Linked DNA regions of Homo sapiens: regions 1 and 3 are each linked to region 2. Evidence: fine-mapped expression QTL. A gene starts in region 2. Each other region holds a variant in brackets. All regions are shown on one strand. Distances are between the middles of the regions.

What was found. PIP is the estimated chance that this variant, and not a neighbour inherited with it, causes the effect.
Region 1: its variant is the best candidate, but not a certain one, in a credible set for the expression of IL21R in CD4 T cells (CEDAR, PIP 0.55).
Region 3: its variant is the best candidate, but not a certain one, in a credible set for the expression of IL21R in whole blood (INTERVAL, PIP 0.70).

What each region holds. Positions count from the first base shown.
Region 1 is chr16:27,438,960-27,441,736 of GRCh38, reverse strand. All of the region lies in intron 4 of IL21R (interleukin 21 receptor), which reads right to left. Among named protein-coding and RNA genes, the nearest start is that of IL21R-AS1, 13 kb to the left of the region's middle. RefSeq lists an enhancer at 2,344-2,777. The variant T/C (reference allele first, on the strand shown) is at 1,451.
Region 2 is chr16:27,400,622-27,403,339 of GRCh38, reverse strand. It overlaps IL21R (interleukin 21 receptor), which reads right to left and starts at 1,166. Exons shown (of 9, transcript NM_181078.3): 1 at 722-1,166. RefSeq lists enhancers at 535-654, 547-1,089.
Region 3 is chr16:27,448,515-27,451,291 of GRCh38, reverse strand. It overlaps IL21R (interleukin 21 receptor), which reads right to left. Exons shown (of 9, transcript NM_181078.3): 9 at 1-2,758. The coding sequence ends at 2,009. IL21R-AS1 (IL21R antisense RNA 1) reads left to right here. Exons shown (of 3, transcript NR_037158.1): 3 at 1,486-2,777. Among named protein-coding and RNA genes, the nearest start is that of IL21R-AS1, 3.5 kb to the left of the region's middle. RefSeq lists enhancers at 527-676, 1,017-1,066, 1,087-1,246, 907-1,784, 2,047-2,286 and 1 more. The variant C/T (reference allele first, on the strand shown) is at 1,716.

The DNA of each region.
Region 1 (2,777 bases), 38 kb before region 2:
GCACCTGGCCTATATTAAGTTTTAAAGTTAGCAACCCATCCAAAAATGTTCTCAGCAACGTGCTGGCAAATCCATTCATTTTCCATTTCTGTTCTAAATGATGGTATCATTTTCTTTCAACCCCAGCTACTTCAAGCAGTTGATGACTCTTCTTAGCATGAATGCTAATGGTGAGGGCTGCCATTTACACAGAGCCTGCCTGGCTGCCCTGCTCTGGGCAGTTTGACACCCCACAGTGGCCCTGGGAGGCCAATCTGATGGTCCTCATCTTTCAGCGTCTCCTGGCAAGTGCAAGAGCCGAGCTCTGAGCCATAACAGCAAGCTTTCATGGGCGGCCTCCAGGTGAAGGTCAAAGCCGGCATTCTGTTTTTGCTCCATTCGAAGGACATTTCATGAACTTGAGCAGAACACAATATGTTAAGGGCCTTAAATTCCTCTCTTGTAAAATGGGCTCAGTTCCTATATCATGGGGCTTCAAGTTCAAAGGGATGAAGCTATTTAGCAGAAGGCAGTAACTTCAGAGGAACTGAGTGACAAGTGTCTATTAGTGTCAGAGAGGAGTTGCAGGCCTCTGCCCTCACCTTCTCCACTTTTTCTTTTTTTGTTCTCCTTCCTTCCTTCCTTTCTCCCTCCTTCCCTCCCTCCCTCCCTTTCTTTTTTCTCTTCTTTCTTTTTTTTTTTTTTTTTTTTGAGACAGAATCTCTGTCACCCAGGCTGGAGTGCAGTGGCGTGATCTCAGCTCACTGCAGTCTCCACCTCCCAAGCCCAAGCGATTACACGGCCTCAGCCTCCCAAGTAGCTGGGACCATAGGTGCGCACCACCATGACTGGCTAATTTTTGTATTTTTAGTAGAGAAGTAGTTTCCCCATGTTGGCCAGACTGGTCTTGATCTTCTGACCTCAAGTGATCCACCCACCTCAACCTCCCAAAGTGCTGGGACTACAGGTGTGAGCCACCACACCCAGCCACCTTCTTCACTTTCAATCTGCCACCATCTAACACTCTGCACCTCTCACCCTGTGATTTTGTTTACTATGTGCCTCCCTCACTGGGCTCTTAGCTCCTTGGGGCAGAGGTTTTGTCCTCCAGGTTCAGTCTGTGCCCACAGCTCCTAGAACACAGCCTGGGGCACAGTAGGCCCTCAATAAATATTTGGCAAATTAGGCTGGGCAAGGTGGCTCATGCCAAAAATCTCAGCACTTTGGGAGGCTGAGGTGGGAGGATTGCTTGAGGCCAGGTGTTCAAGACCAGCCTGGACAACACAGCAAGATCCCAGCTCTACAAAAAATTTAAAAATTAGCCAGGATGGTGATGTGCACCTGTAGTCCCAACCACTCAGGAGGCCGAAGTGGGAGGATCGCTTGAGCCCAGGAGTTCCAGGCTGCAATGAGCTATGGTTGTGCCACTGCACCCCAGGCTGGAGGACAAAGCTACACCCTGGCGCGCGCT[T/C]GCTCGCTCTCTCTCTCTCTCTCTCTCTCTCTCTCTCTATATATATATATATATATATATATATTTGTCAGATTAACTAATGAACCTTGCAAGGCCTCCAGAAAGGAGCTCTAAGGCTGCCTGTGATCCTGAAACCCGCACTGAGGGCTCCCACCACGCCCCGAGGTGACAGAGGTGCACATTTTACAGAATGCCATGGTGAACACTGGGTTGTTGCTGTTGCTGTTCCAGTAATGGGATGTTTTTGACTGAAATCGTTTCTAACCCCTCTTTTGTCTTCCCCGGGGCAGGTGGAGGCCGGCTCTCGGCTTCCCTGTGTGGCTGGGTGAGGATGAGTCCCAGAAGACACCAGGGTACTGAGAACTGCCCCGTGGGTACTCGGGAGATGTTTGCAGAGCCTGGGGGTCGTGAAGAGGGGCTGCTCAGCCCAGCGAGGCCCAGGGCCCAGGAGGAGGAAGGGACCCTCGGCGGGAGGTGGTTAGAAAATCACTTCCTGCCCCAGCTGGGACCAGGCTAGCTGCAGATCCTGGCAGGGAGGGAGGGAATGCCAGAGAGAAATGCTTGGATTCACGCTGCAAGACAAGTGGCAAGGAGGGTCCCCTTGTGAGTCTGTGCATGTGTGAGTGTGTGCATGTGTGCCCGTGAGTAATGTGTGTGTCTGTGCATGAGTGTACACGTGTGTGAGAATGCATGTGTGAGTGTGTGCATATGTGTGCCCGTGTGTGATGTGAGAGTGTATGAGTATGTGTATATGTGCGTGTGTGCACACGTGTGAGAAAGTGTATATGTGTGTGCATGTGTGAGTCTACACGTGTGTGAGAATGCATGTGTGAGTGTGTGCGTGTGTGTGCCCATGTATGAGTGATGTGAGAGTATATGTGTGAGTGTGTGTGTATTGTGTACGTGTGTGTGTGTGTGTGTGTGTATGTATGTGTGAGTGTGTATGAGAGTGAGAGAGAGCAAGAGAGAGAGGCAGTGTGGGCCTCTGTGTCCATGCCATGCAGGCTGGGGCTGGGGAGACATCTGTGAGTTTGAGGGCGCATCTATGAGTCTGTGTGTGCGTGAGTCTGTGACCCTGGGAATTTGCGTGAGTGTGCATGTGTCTGGGAGTGTGTGAAGCTTCACTCTCACGCTCTGTGGTGTGACATCCACTCAGCAAAGAGGTGCAAACCTGGACCCCCAGAGTGTGAATCACAGACACCTCTTATACCCCAGCCCCTCTGCTGGGAATCTAGCGGCAGAAACTCCCGAGCTCATGGGCGGGGCCTTCCTGAGGGCAGGCTCCCTTTGCAGCCTGTGTTTGCCTCTGGGGCCGCTTTGGGTACAC
Region 2 (2,718 bases):
CTCCCCAGGGCTCCTCCACCAGGAATGTTCTTCCTTTCCCATCCTTCAAGGCTCAGCCTCCACTGACCTCCCCACCCTCCTCTCCTCCACATGCACAGGGAACTGGGTTGGCCTCTTACCATCCGACCCGTTCCCCGTGCTTCATGAGAAAGATGCAGCGACAGCTCATGGGGTCACCTGGCTTGACTGCCCGACCTGCTACGTCCCAGTTGAGTCACCGAGGGAAAATCACTCTACCTCTCGCAGCCTCATTGCCTCATCTGCGAAATGGGCACACCAGCCATTGTTTTGAATGACTGGGTGGAATCAAGGTGGTAAGACATAGAAACTGACACAGAATGGGTCCCATCAGGCTCTACACCCATGCCCGTCACCTCCCGACTCAGCCGCCCAGAATCGGGTGATTGACATGTTATGTTTGGCTTGAAACTGGCTTTCCTTCCCCAGCCCGCTACATTTTGGAGGCTGGTTTTCAAGATAGAGGGTCGTCTCAGCCACATCCCTGCTGCTGGGCCCCTAAGCTGTGCTGAACAAGAGACCCCAACCTCATTTCTGCCCAGCCTCACTGCATGAATCTTCTTTGCCTCAGTGTCCCCAATTGTGACTTGGGCACAGTCCTCCGAGCCCTCCCACTGTGACACTAGATGCAGCAGGCAGGGAACAGTCCCTCCTGGGCAGAGAAGGCACCCTGGTCCCAGCAGAAAACCAGGGCTGGAATTACCTTCTGTTTCGGCTTCTTTCTCAGAAATCCATTCCGTGTGCTGGGGGCAGTCTGATGGGCTTCTGGGGGTGGCAGCTGGGTTCAGCGTGGGGGTGACAGATGAGGGTCTGAGAAAGCAGGCAGAGGCCTGGGGTGAGAATCCACACCCAGCCCGAGTCACCAATCAGGCTGTCATAAGACCTGTCACTCTGATGACGGGCAGCTGGGCCTCCAGGCAGGTGTCCCACAGAGCAGCAGACAGAGGAAAGAGACGGCAAGGAAGGTACCAGGCGGCCGCAGCAGGGATGCACGGGCCGCAGACAGACAGACACAGCTGCGTGGCTGTCAGCCACACTCAGGGAGAGGCAGGCAGAGGGCCAGACGCCGAGCTTACGGTCACTCAGCAGAGAGACGCCAGTGGGTCTGTCTGAGGCCGCTGGCTGCCACCCAGCCGCATGTGCAGAGTGGGGAGGAAGAGGAGGATGTGGTGAGCCGCTCCCCGCCAGCCCCGCCCACCCGCAGCTGGGCTCCTCCTGGGAGGGAGTGAGAAAGAGGTGGGAGGGGGCCTGGCCCCACAGCAGGCACCCACTGTCACCAAAGGTCACCTGCAAGTAAGACATTTGGGGCCATCGGGGTGACACTTCCCTCTTAGGGACCTGTGACATCATCCCCACAGGCCTCTCAGTCATAACCCATGAGGCAGGCAGTGCCTCCTGGAGCCACCACATTGCACAGATATGGAAACTGAGGCCAGAGGTGTGAAGATGTGGCACAGTTTCACCCGTGGACCCAGAGTCCTCAGTGGCCGACTCCAGCCCCTCAGCACAGAGAGAAGGACCAGAACCTTGCCCAAGGTCCCACGGAAGCCCCTTTTTCAGACTTTGCAAACCAGCCTGTTTCTTATTCCTGAGCCTTACCTGCCTAATAGGGTCTGAGCTTGGGACCCTCTGCTCTGGCTTGACCCCCATGCCTCTCTGCCTCCATTTCCTTTGGATCCAGTCTCCTGCTGCAGAGCTCCAGGGAGCAGGACCCCTTGGGCACGTCACATCACCTCTCTGAATGCCTCACTTTGCCCATCTGTCAAATGGGGGCACCTAGCTATGAGGAAGAGGGCAGACATTAACACATGAGAATTCAAGAAGAAAATAGAGAAAAGAAATTCTCAAGAGAGTTTTCATCTTGCTAACATGCCAGAGGCCCATGAGAGGGTCAGATGTTTCTGGAAGACATTCAAGAAACCAGGAGACAAAATGTAACAAGCTTAATGCCTAGTGCAGTCTCCAAAGGAGAGCAAGAGAATTGCTACCACCACCACCGCTACCACCACCACCACTACCACTGCCATCACCACCACCTCGAATTACTTTGGTGCCTACATGATCTCACTTTATCCCACAAAGTGTGAGGCAGACAAGATTAGTCCCATTTTACAGATGGAGAGACTGAGGCCCAGAGGAGTGAAACGTCACACAAGCCAAGAAGAATTAGAGCTGGGATTTGAACCTGGGTGTGTTTGATTCCTAAGCTTATACCAGGCTGTGAAAACGGGGCCATACCAGGATGAAATGTCCCACAGTTGGGGGAGGCTATTTTATGCTGTTTTGATAACAAGATGCAATTTGTAGCTCTCCCTGCTGACTCATTTTTGGGAATCAACTTGCTGTTGACTTTCGTGACCACTCCAGAGAAAAAAGAGAAAGCGTCTTGCTATTCTTTCTTTCTTTTTTTTTCTAGCTGTTTTTGAGGAACTTGGTACAAATTCCCCTGTGGTTGATTTGAGGGATCCTGGCCCTGTAGAGCTCTTCCCAGCTACCGAAGTGTGTCGTGTTCTCTGGAGAACGAACCTTGGGAAGACACCAGCTTTTGTTTTTCTTTCTCTTGATCTTCGGGGTGAATTCTCTGATAACATGCACTGAAATTTGTAGTGGTTGAAAGATCAGGAGAAGAGACAGTAAAAAGAGCTAATATTTGCTGAAAGCTCATTGTGTGCCAGGGTTTTAAGGACTTTAAAGATGCAC
Region 3 (2,777 bases), 48 kb before region 2:
ACCCAGCAAGCTCTGGGTGCAGGAGAGCTGTGCTGCTTTCCTGGGAGCCTGTGGCTCAGGTGGCACCCACAGGTGGCTCCTGGAACCTGTTGCCCCCAAGAAGGTGTGAAAACCACAGCACATCTGGACCCAAGAGTCCCTAGGGTGCAGGTGCACGGGGTGTTGAGGGCTGCGCCTGCTCCGTGCAGAAGCTGTGTTTCCACTCTTGTGCTCCCATCCAAGTCTCACACCCCCCGATCCCAGGCTCACAGTCCCACTCTTATAACCATCAGTGTTCTAGAACCTTCCAGCCTCCTGCCAGGCACCGAGGACTCTCATGCATTCTCTCAGCTACCTCTCCCAACCACCCCACTTCACAGATGAGTCACGAAGGAACCTTCCGCAGGACTGACCTGTGCTGACTTCCAACCCGACCCTGTTGCAAAAGCATGGGTGAGCTAGAGCTGGCTCCTCCAGCACAGCCCTGCAGCCTGCAGTCTGACCTTTGGGGAGGAAGACGGGGCCGGGCCAGGGTGGCCCCAGCTCTACTAAAAATACAAAAATTAGCCAGGCGTGGTGGTGTGTGCCTGTAATTCCAGCTACTCTGGGGCTGACGCAGGAAATCGCTTGAACCCGGGAGACAGAGGTTGCAGAGAGCCGAGATCGCACCACTGCATTCCAGCCTGGGCGACGAGAGTGAGACTCTGTCTCAAAAGAAAAAAAAAAAAAAGAAAAAGAAAATGTTGCTAAGAAATATTTTCTTAGCTTCTTAATTCACATTTCAACAGGTTCTCTGACAAATCATTGACAAACAACTTGACCTCCCTTCAATTCTCCAGGATGAACAAATAAGACAGGATTTATTGGCAGGATTGAATTGGGGCAGGGTAGGGGGCCCAGCAGGATGTGTGGCCGGAGCACACTGCATAGTTCCAACCTGCAGCCCCCTCCATGAGTGCCACGGGGGGTGGGTCCCATGAGCCATGGCCTGCTACGTAATTGGTGTTTAATAAATATCTCTTGGGTGCATAAAGGGAATTTTTAAAAACTTAGTAGCAGAAGTTAGAAAAAGAAATCTTGGTTGGTGGGGAGCTGTTTCCAAGAGACGAAACGGACTGATTTTAAGCCTGGAAACCCCCCCGAGTGGCCCTCTGCAGGCGGGACGGCCCCGCGGGTGCCCAGGCTGTCGCTGACGATTGATGTTCTCACCCCCGCCCGCCTCGGCTCTGGCCGCAGAAGGAAGGAAGCTGACGTTTATTGAGGGTCTGCTCTGGGCTGCGTACCGTACACGGGTGACATCGCCAATTTCCCCCAGGTGTGTCATGCCTTCCCCACTGTCTGGATAAGGAAACTCTAGCCCAGAGAGGGGAGGCGACTTGGCTCAGGTAGCACAGCCAGAAGGTATCAGAGTCGGGATTCAGACCTTCGTCCAGGGGCCGCCCAAAAAATTGCCATTCCCGAGGTCACCATGGGCTCACTCCATCCCCTTTCGCTTCCTGTTGGCAGGTGATAAGGAACAATATGGACTTCTTGCAGCTCCTGGAGGCAGACGCTGGAGGGCTGGGCTCCGCCTCAGTCACAGGCAATGCCCTGATCCCACAAAGCCCCGGAGATGCTGTGGACCAACTTGCAACACAAGACCCTAGGAGGGAGGACGGCTGTTGTCATCTGTTGACCACAAACACGTTTACTGTGCACACTTGTGCACATGGGTGAGCTCCGTGAGTCCAGACATG[C/T]ACAGGGCAGGTGAATGCATGGAGTACCATGGGCATTATCCCAGGCCCACAGGCACGTGCAATCACACACACACGTGGACATGCCACTGCGCACCTAAGACACACACACACACACACATGCATATGCACACACACACATATGCACACACACACACAGACACTGTAAACATCAGGCTCAAAGGCCCATCCAGGAGACCAAAGGCTGCAGGTGTCTTCACATCACAGCCCAGGTGACCTTGTCTCTGGCTCAGGGCCCAGTGGCCTGGCCAGCTCTGGACATCCAGTCAGCCTCATTAGCTGGCCTGGGGTCCAGGGCTCGAAAGTGGCGGAGGAATGACCACCCACTGGCGGAGGTAGCTCCGGGGGGGTCCTTCGTCCCCGGGGCTGGTGAAGTCACACTCCACAGGGCTGCTGCAGTCAGAGCCCACAAAGCCACTGTCAAACGTGTCCATATCCAGGCCGGCCAGGGGTGAGCCCGCCTCACTCTCTGAGACCCCTCCAGGTGACCGGCCACCCCAGGGCAGTCCCCCAGCCCAGTCCTCCCCATCTGCAAGGGGTGGCTTTAGTCTGTCCAGGAGGCTTCCCAGGGGCCCTCCTAGCCCAGGGCTGCCAGCTGAGACACAGCCACAGGACAGGACTGTGGTCCCTGCATCCAAGAGTGGGTCCTCTAGGCCTGGGCTGGGCTCCAGGCCAGCATCCAGGTCCAGGGCTGGGTAGCCGTCATCCTCACAGCTGCAGGGCCAGGTGCATGGCCCCTCTGCATCTAGCACAGTCACTGTGTCAATGGACACCAGGCCGTATGGCCGATCCCTCTCCTCACTGTAAGCTGAGCCCCCCGAGTTCTGGGCTGTCGGCCAGAAGCTGGGCTTGGGCACACCGTCAGACTCCACCAGCTCTGCTGGTTCTTGTAGCTCCGTGAGCTGCAGCCTCTTGGCCGGGCTCCGTGGTGGGTGGCAGCTGTACACCTCCAGGGTGGAGGGCACCTCTGGGCTCCAGGGTCCCAGCTCCAGGCTGGAGCCAGTGAAGGGTGCACCCACCCATTTCTGTGAGAGAGAAAAAGAG